Regions from separate parts of the Homo sapiens genome. Here region 2 is linked to region 1. The links come from fine-mapping of genetic effects on gene expression. A gene starts in region 1. The other region holds a variant in brackets. All regions are shown on one strand. Distances are from middle to middle. Region 1 holds the start of SEC14L1 (SEC14 like lipid binding 1). Region 2 has its middle 23 kb from the start of SEC14L1.

The links.
Region 2: its variant is fine-mapped to the expression of SEC14L1 in whole blood (TOPMed, PIP 0.92).

Annotation. Positions count from the first base shown.
Region 1 is chr17:77,138,199-77,142,583 of GRCh38, reverse strand. It overlaps SEC14L1 (SEC14 like lipid binding 1), which reads right to left and starts at 1,615. Exons shown (of 17, transcript NM_001143998.2): 1 at 1,477-1,615. It overlaps LOC105371901 (a long non-coding RNA gene), which reads left to right and starts at 1,145. Exons shown (of 5, transcript XR_934988.3): 1 at 1,145-1,228. RefSeq lists silencers at 843-1,137, 1,302-1,751, 1,762-1,971, 2,122-2,331.
Region 2 is chr17:77,116,055-77,120,439 of GRCh38, reverse strand. It overlaps a transcript of SEC14L1 not described here. Among named protein-coding and RNA genes, the nearest start is that of SEC14L1, 23 kb to the left of the region's middle. The variant G/A (reference allele first, on the strand shown) is at 2,265.

The DNA.
Region 1 (4,385 bases):
ATTCCTTTTTTTTTTTTTTTTTTTTTGAGACAGGGTGTCTCTCTGTTGCCCAAGGTGGAACACAGTGGCACAATCTCCACTCACTGCAGCCTCCACCTTCTAAGCTCAAGTGATCCTCCTGCCTCAGCCTCCCAAGTAGCTGGGACCACAGGCACGCACCACCATATATATTTTTTGTAGAAGGTTTCCCCATGTTGCCCAGGCTGGTCTCAAACTCCTGGGCTCAAGGGATCTGCCCACTTCAGCCTCCCAAAGTGCTAGGATTATAGTCATGAGTCACGGCGCCTGGTATAGAATTCCCATCTATAGTACTAAGGTTTAAACAGGTTTGGAACTTTCTCTGGTATGTCTGGCATACCTCTCAGAGGAGAGGTCATGGTGGAAAACATCGCCATCTGACAGTGTGAAAACGGCTAAGGAATGACTCTGGGTGACCACGAGTAAGCCATTTGACTTCCCTAGGACTCAGTTTCATCTCTGTAAAATGAGGTTTTCGGGGAGATGATCTTGAAAGACTTCCACCTCTAAAACCATGAGAATGAGAGCCAAACTCCCAAGTTCTCCAAACTCAACTTGAAGCTTTTCTAATATTCATCTTGATTATGCGACTGACACATCCTGATGTGCTGGGACCACGTTCTTTTTCTTTTGCAAACCTTACAGTGTTGGTGCACAGTGGGAATCCAATCATCTTTTAAAAATTTAATTGGGAATATTAATTTTAGGGTACTCTCCCAGATATGAGGACGATAACCGGGTACAAACAAGAGTTGGGGGAAGAAGCAAAAAAGCGTAATGCTCGTTTAAGAAACGGTAACATCCATTCAGGATTCCACCGCCTGGCAGAACTGGCTACACTCACTTAAGAACCTGCTAATTCACGAGCTTGTGAACCACAGCCAGGTCTCAGCTGCCGATGCTCTGGTCCAGATAAACGCCCTACGCGGGCATCCGGAGTGACAACGACCAAGTGGCATCCAGGAGCCGGACGGCCTCCATTGCATGACAATCGCTGTTTAAACAGGAGCCAAAGGCCAGACCCACTGAACGCATCCCGAGCAGGCTCGAGGGGCGGCCGGCGCCCGGGGCTGCTCAGCAGGGGTCCCGCGCGGCTGAGCCCCACGGGGCCAAAGCCCCGACCGACGGGAGAGAGGGGCGGGCACTGGCTCCGGACCCGAAACTCCGCTCTCAGCAAAAAGCGGCTCCCGGGAACTGGAAGCCTGGCGAGGTGGGGGTGGGGGCGGGGGAGGGGGGCGAGGGGCGGCGAGGGGCGAGCAGGGGGGCGGAGGGCGAGCAGGGGGGCGGGGGCACGGCCCGTTTCGGGTGCCGGGCCGATGGCAGCCGGGGCTGGGGAGGGACAGGCTCAGCAAGCGGGCGGCCGGGAGTTCCGGGGGGCCCGCCCGAGAGGCGCCGGACTCCACGGAGACCGGGACCGGGGCGAGGGCGCACTCGGACCCGCCGCGACGACGCGCCTACCTCTTGTCAGAAAGGCCGGGCCTGGGACACGGGGTGGCGAGGGGCGCTCATACCGGCGGCTCCGCGGGGCAGTCTCGGTTCCACTGCTCCGCGACCGTAGCTCGACCGCCGGTTCCGGGGAGGGGGCCGGGGAGGCGGGAGGGGGAAGGGGCGCGGCGACGGCACTTGTGGTTGTTACGGGTGACGGGGTGGGCGGGGCCGGGCGCCGGGAGGGGCGCGCGTGCGCGGCCGCGGCCGAGGGAGCGGGGGCGGGAGCGGGCGATGGTTGCTAAGAAAGGGGAGGGGGGAGGACACCCGGGGCCCGAACTGCGCAGGCGCGAGCTCCGACCCGCGAGCGTGGGAGGAGCTCGGAGAAGGCGCCGGCCCCGTCGCACTGCTGGATGTGCCCGAGGTCCTCGTGGCCCCTCCCAGTTTTGCGTCACTTGTTGGGGGCGGGGCCGGGCTGGGCTTCGCGAGTAGCGGGCGGAGGCGGAGTGAAGCCCCAAGGGGCTGCCGGCGTGCAGGGGAGGGGTTCGGCTGAGCGGGAAAAGGGAAGTTTGCGGGAGGTCAAAACCACCGGGGCCCTCCCGTATGGCTGCTGCTCTGAGGCCTGCCTCTGGTCGCCCTGGCGGCTGCCCCCGTGCTTCCTCATTTCTTGTTGACTGTTCAGGAGCACCAGGCTGCTCGCGCCAGTGCCCCGACCGCATTCTCGCCGAGTAATGGGGAGGAGGCGGACGCCGGTGCTGCGCGGCCCAGGGCTCGGGAGGGCCCGGGTGAGCCCGGGTGGAGCCCAGCGGCATCCTTGTCAACACATCCAGACGGCTCTAGTGTCGGGCCGCGGGCTTGAAACTGAGACGCGCGCCCAGGGCCTGCCCCTCGGAAACGAGGGTGCCAAGGTGGGGCTGCTAAGTAGCTCCCGAATTTCAGCAGGAGAGCACCGTCCAGCCCCAATTTTCAATCCGGTACCACTGAGACATTTTGGGGTCCTTAAGAGGAGCTCATGACTAGAAAGGGGCACCTCGCATGCCCACCCACACAGCAAAGCTGGTTTTATAACCAACATGCAATTTCACTGTCAAAGTCACTGTTGTTCCGTTCACATTAGTCACCCTGAGTGGCTGTACATTTCATGCTGCCATTGGACAGAACGTTTTTGGACCTGTTTAGGAATTTCCATCAAAGCCAGTTTACCAGACACACAAGCAAATCATTCATGGCCTCATCACCCCTTGTGTTCCACGTCAAACCATCATCTTCCAGCTGGGTCACCTACATTATTCACTACATTCAGTCTGACTGGCTTTTGCTTGTTTGTAGAAATCACATCCACCGGCCGGGCGCGGTGGCTCACGCCTGTAATCTCAGCACTTTGGGAGGCCGAGGTGGGCGGATCACGAGGTCAGGAGATCGAGACCATCCTGGCTAACACGGTGAAATCCCTGTCTCTACTAAAAATACAACAGATTAGCCGGGCGTGGTGGCGGGCGCCTGTAGTCCCAGCTACTTGGGAGTCTGAGGCAGGAGAATGGCGTGAACCCTGGAGGCAGAGCTTGCAGTGAGCCGAGATCGCGCCACTGCACCCCAGCCTGGTCGACAGAGCGAGACTCCGTCCCAAAAAAAAAAAAAAAAATCACATCCACCTTCAAAAGACGCTTTAACGCCGTTGCGGTGGCTCACGCCTGTAATCCCAACAGTCTGGGAGACCTAGGTGGGTGGATCACCTGAGGTCAGGAGTTTGAGACCATCCTGGTCAACACGGTGAGACCTCGTCTCCACTAAAAATACAAAAAGTAGCCGGGTGTGGTGCCAGATGCCTGTAATCCCAGCTACTTGGGAGGCTGAGGCAGGAGAATCACTTGAACCTGGGCAGAGGTTGCAGTGAGGCAAGATCACGCCACCTGCCCTGCACTCCAGCCTGGGCTGGACTCCAGCAAGACTCCGTGTCAAAAAAAAAAAAAAAAAAAAAAATTCACCTGACCTGCTGAACTTCTAGATGCAACCACCAGTTTACAGGAAATACAGAATAGAGGAACATGCTAAATGACACCATGAAAAACAATTGGCAAAGTACAGACTGTGGGAAACGGTACAAGACAAATATATTCTTTATCAAATTCCAAAGGAAAAAAAGAGGGGAATGGTCAATCTATAGATTAAAAGAGATTGGGAAATTTGTTGAGCCATACATTCATTTATGATTTGCAAGCTTTTATATGTATATTATACTTCAGTTAAACATTTTGAAGAAAAAACAGACTTGAGACATCAACCAATCACAAAAAACTTTATTTCCATTTTTTTTTTCTTGAAACAGTCTCACTCTGTTCCCCAGGCTTGAGGGCAGTGGCATAATCATAGCCGTCTGCAGCATCATCACCTGGCCTCAAGTGAACCTCCCACCTCAGCCTTCTGAGTAGCTGTGACTACAGGCATGTGCCACCACGCCTGGCTACTTTTTGCTATTTTTTTCCTTAGGTTTTTTTTGTTTTTTTGTTTGTTTGTTTGTTTTGAGATGGAGTCTTACTCTGTTGCCCAGGCTGGAGTGCAGTGGCACGATCTTGGCTCACTGCAACCTCCACCTCCTGGGTTCAAGTGATTCTCCTGCCCTCCTGCCTCAGCCTCCCGAGTAGCTGGGATTACAGGCGAGTGCCCAGCTAATTTTTTTATTTTTAGTAGAGACGGGCTTTCACCATGTTGGTCAGGCCGGTCTCAAACTCCTGACCTTGTGATCTGCCTGCCTCAGCCTCCCAGAGTGGTGGTATTACAGGAGTGAACCACAGCACCCTGCCCACCAACCTCCTACTTGCCTGGGGACTAGATTGCCTTTGTAGGACTAACATTAGCCACAAATTAGAAATTATGGTTTAGGAGTCATGCAGCTGGAGGCTACAAGATTCTGACCCTCCCTAAACTGCTCCTAAGATCAGTGC
Region 2 (4,385 bases), 22 kb after region 1:
TGTGGATGCATTCCCTAGTTGGGGAGTAGAACACGCAGACACACAGCGACGTTCTAGACCTCTGTCCTCGTCCCTCTGTGATGGCACTGTGGTTGTGACATGCTCCAGGAAATCCCTAGCTGAGCTCCTACGTGAGTGGCAAAACAAGGCGGTTAGAACGCTTCATGCCTAGATGTACATGTCTAATGGGCACTTCATGATTCACTTTTTTTAAATTTATTTTTTATTTCTAAAGATAGGATGTCTCACTATGTTGCTCAGGCTGGTCTTGAACTCCCGAGCTCAAGGGATCTGCTCACCTCAGCCTCCCAAAGTGCTGGGATTTACAGGCGTGCACCACCACACCTGGCCATGATTCACATTTTTAAGACGATGTTTGTCAGTCTAATCTCCAGTCGATGGGCTCTCAGGCAGTATAACAAATGAGCTGAAAATGTTTTCAGTGCAATACGGGAAAGTATTCTTAGGGCAAATCCAGACTGAGGGTCAGGGCAGCCTGGGGAATGTCCCAAAGGTCAGATTCCCGAAGTTGTTCCTGACATTCCAAGCTGCTGCCTTTTCTGTGGCATTGGTTCAGAATGTATTTGCGAAGGTTCTAATTCTTCTCATAGTGACAGCTTTGGCAAGGGTGGGTGGAGCTGGTAGGTTTAAGTGCAGGTGGGTTTATGTAATCCAGGGATTATGTACATAATAGAAGTATGAACTGCTGGAGTGTAAGGGCCGTTTGAGGCAAGCCAGCCTGGGGCCCTCTCCTTATCAGTGAAAATATTAATTGCCTGCAATTAGAGATGATATTTCACATTCACTCAGCATAAATTATTTCATCAAATACATACTCTTTGATCCTGTAGGTGGATAAAATAAATACTGCTTCTCATCCTGCCAGAGAGCTTATTACCTCCTTGACAACAGCCACGTCTGCTCTTTCACAGGGATACCGGCTCCTTGATGGTGCTCCTCCATCTAACTTTGTTTAATTTAACGCCAATGAGGACCAGGTGTGATTTGAAACATCCTTCCAACCCCTGAAAGGTATTCCTTCCTGGGTAGGACAGAGTCTGGAATTCGCCCGTAATCCCTAAGGACAGGTGACCCAGTGATTGTCCAGGCTGTATTTTTTTTTTTTTTTTTTGGGATGGAGTCTCACTCTGTCACCCAGGCTGGAGTGCAGTGGCGCAATCTCGGCTCACTGCAACCTCTGCCCCCCAGATTCAAGCAGTTCTCGTGTCTCAGCCTCCCAAGTAGCTGAGATTAGAGGCGCATGCCCACACTCGGCTAATTTTTGTATTTTTAGTAGAGACAGGGTTTCACTATGTTACCCAAGCTGGTCTCAAACTCCTGAGCTCAGGCAATCCACCCGTCTCGGCCTCCCAAAGTGCTGGGATTACAGACATGAGCCACTGTACCCGGCCTGTACAGGCTGTATTTTTCTTCCTTCATCAATGCATGCAGAGGTTTGTTTTCTGAGATGTTAAGCAAGCTTTTGGGATGCTTCTTGGGAAGTCAGCAAAGCCAGGGCTTCCTTCATCCCGCTGAAGGTGGTGGGATGGTTTCTGGAAAGTACTAGCTATTTCTTTCCCATGCTAAGCCTCTTGGGATCACTTTGCCAGTCAAAGCCTGTGCTCCCTGCATAATCAGAGAGGAATGCTGTAAAGAGGCGATGGTGATTGACAGCAGCTTCTAGGTGCACCGCCTGCATGCACGCCTGCTACGAACATCTGAACAATTACAGGAAGGAGGCTGTCGAAATGCATAATTATAACCTTGACTTAGAAAAAGCATGATCTTCTCTGGTTGGGGCCGAGGCTTTCCTTACGTTAAGCGCATTCCCAGACCAGCAACTGGAGTGCTCCGTACATTGGACGTGGCAGCATCTGGAATATTACATAACAGAAGCATGTCCATTGCCCTTGGAACGTATGAGGCTCGGGGACAGTCCTCCACTCGGTGGAGACTACAAGGTCTCATTAATGAGTCACCTTTGTTCCCTTTTCCATCCTTTATAATTAGGGTGACATACATTCCATTTGGCCCAGGACAGTCTCCATATGTGCCTACTGAACGAAGGTGGTAATTAACAAGGCCTCCTTCACTCTCCGAAGGGACCTGACTGGGAGATAAACTCAGAGATCACTGATTTGTAATCCTCAAGGAGGACGGAGACAACGCCCAGGTGGCCATGGGCACCCTTGAAAGACCGCCTAGGTAAGAAGGCTTCAGGATAAACGATAGGGAAAAGCTGTTCCAGCCCCTTCCACAGTGCG[G/A]CCTGCCGCACTCACCCTTAATGGCTCTGAGCACATGCTCCCAGCTACTGGGACACTGGCATGAACAGCATGAGCCAGGTGGGCCTGATGGCCTAGTCAGTATGCCCAGATGGAAAAAATCAAATGATTCCCGCTGTCCAGTTGACCCTGAAGCTGACTGAGATTAGATGAAGCTTTGCTGTTTGGCGTCCAAGCCTTGGGCTCCCAGTCCTAGGTTCGAGAGAACTTCAGTGCCAGCCTTGTGTAGGGGGAGGTGAGGGATCCACCAGGGCAGTCTTGTTTTTAGGGCCTTCTTATCATGCTGGGTCCCATGGAGGCCCACTGCAAAAGGCCAAATCATTCTGTCATTCTGCATAGTCTCCCTTAAAGTGGTGGGAACGAAGAAGGAGGCACAGGAGATAATATTCAGGGAGTCTCAAAGACCAAAAGGTCCCCAAACGAAGCCCCTTTGCCCAACTTCATTGGAATGAAAGACTTTCTTATCCCTCAAGCCTACCAAATATTTCTTCCTGCAGGAGCTGGCCAGGGTCAGTAGGGCTGGGTTTTCTTGAGCAATTCATTGGTGACAGGCCAACTCCATGGGGAAAATTCTCATCTAAGAGTTGATCTGTGAAGTTATGCTAATTCATCAGCCCTGTCTAAAAGCTTCAGGGCAATTGATTAGGCTGTCAAACATTCATTTGGCCTGTGAGAATAGCTTATTATTTCTTTTTAAAATACCAATCTCTTGGAAAGATGTCGATTGGGTTTCTACGTGCACCCCAACGGTGCCTCTGTGTAGAGCTTACTTCAGCTGCATTTTTTTTGTTTTGTTTTGTTCTGCTTTTCTGAGACAGAGTCTCGCTCTGACACCCAGGCTGGAGTGCAGTGGCTCGATCTTGGCTCACTGCAACCTCCACCTCTCGGGTTCAAGCAATTCTCCCTCCTCAGCCTCCCAAGTAGCTGGGACTATAGGCATGTGTCACCATGCCCGGCTAATTTTGTATTTTTAGTAGAGACAGGGTTTTACCATGTTGGCCAGGCTGGTCTCGAACTCCTGACCTCACGTGATCCACCCGCCTCGGCCTCCCAAAATGCTGGGATTACAGGCATGAGCCACTGCGCCCGGCCTTCCATTGCATTTACTGCAGGGAATAGATAAAGACGGAAAACTGTTGGGTAAATGGAACTCAACTAACACCAGAGACAGCCAATTACAGCAAATGAAGAGGATGCTTACCATTTAATTTTGTAAAGATGGGGTGTCCGCCTGGAATCATGGTCCAAAAATCCTCCCACCCATGGCCCCAGCCCCCTCTCACAGCTGCAGTGGTGGATGAGACAGGGGACTTCTACAGTCCCACTTACCCCAGAGCATCCTGCCAGGTAAGCTCCTTACAGACATGAAAGAGGGTTGTGGAAAAGTCCATGAAATTCCAAGTTTGTTCAAACATCCTGTTACTGATAAAAATGTCCCTTCAAATTCCAAATTGGCTTTGTAGCAAATTTATGTCTGTACTACTTCTCAGACTTGTAAAACACAATATGCAAACAATGATGAAAAATATGAGCCTTTCAGTTTTACTCTGCCCCAAGAGCCAGGGGCTGAAAACCAGGTCCGTCACATGGCTCTCTGTTCAGACAGGAGCAGGTGCCTCCTCCCAAGTTCCCACTCCAGAACTTTACTTTGAGCCTCTTCCAACTGGAAGGTCTTTTCTCCCAACCTCTGCCCTCCACAATCCCACACCATCCTTCCCGGTTCATTTCCTCTGTGTGACACCGAGATTTAAGGGTCAGAATTAATTTCTCCTTCTTCTGGGTTCTGGCTCCGGGTTTTACTCACATCATTATTATAGTTCTCACAACAGGCTGCCTTATTTAGGGATTCCTCAGGCACACAAATTTCTTGCAACAGCAAAGACCCCTAAAACGTTTAAATCAATGTGAATTTTTACAGCATTTAAAAATATGTATGTCAGCCGGGTGTGGTGGCTCATCCCTATAATCCCAACACTTTGGGGGACTGAGGCAGGAGGAATGCTTGAGCTCAGGAGTTTGAGACCAACCTGGGCAACATAGTGAGACCCCATCTCTACAAATAAAAATAAAAATTCGCTGAACCTGGTGGTGTGCACCTGTAGT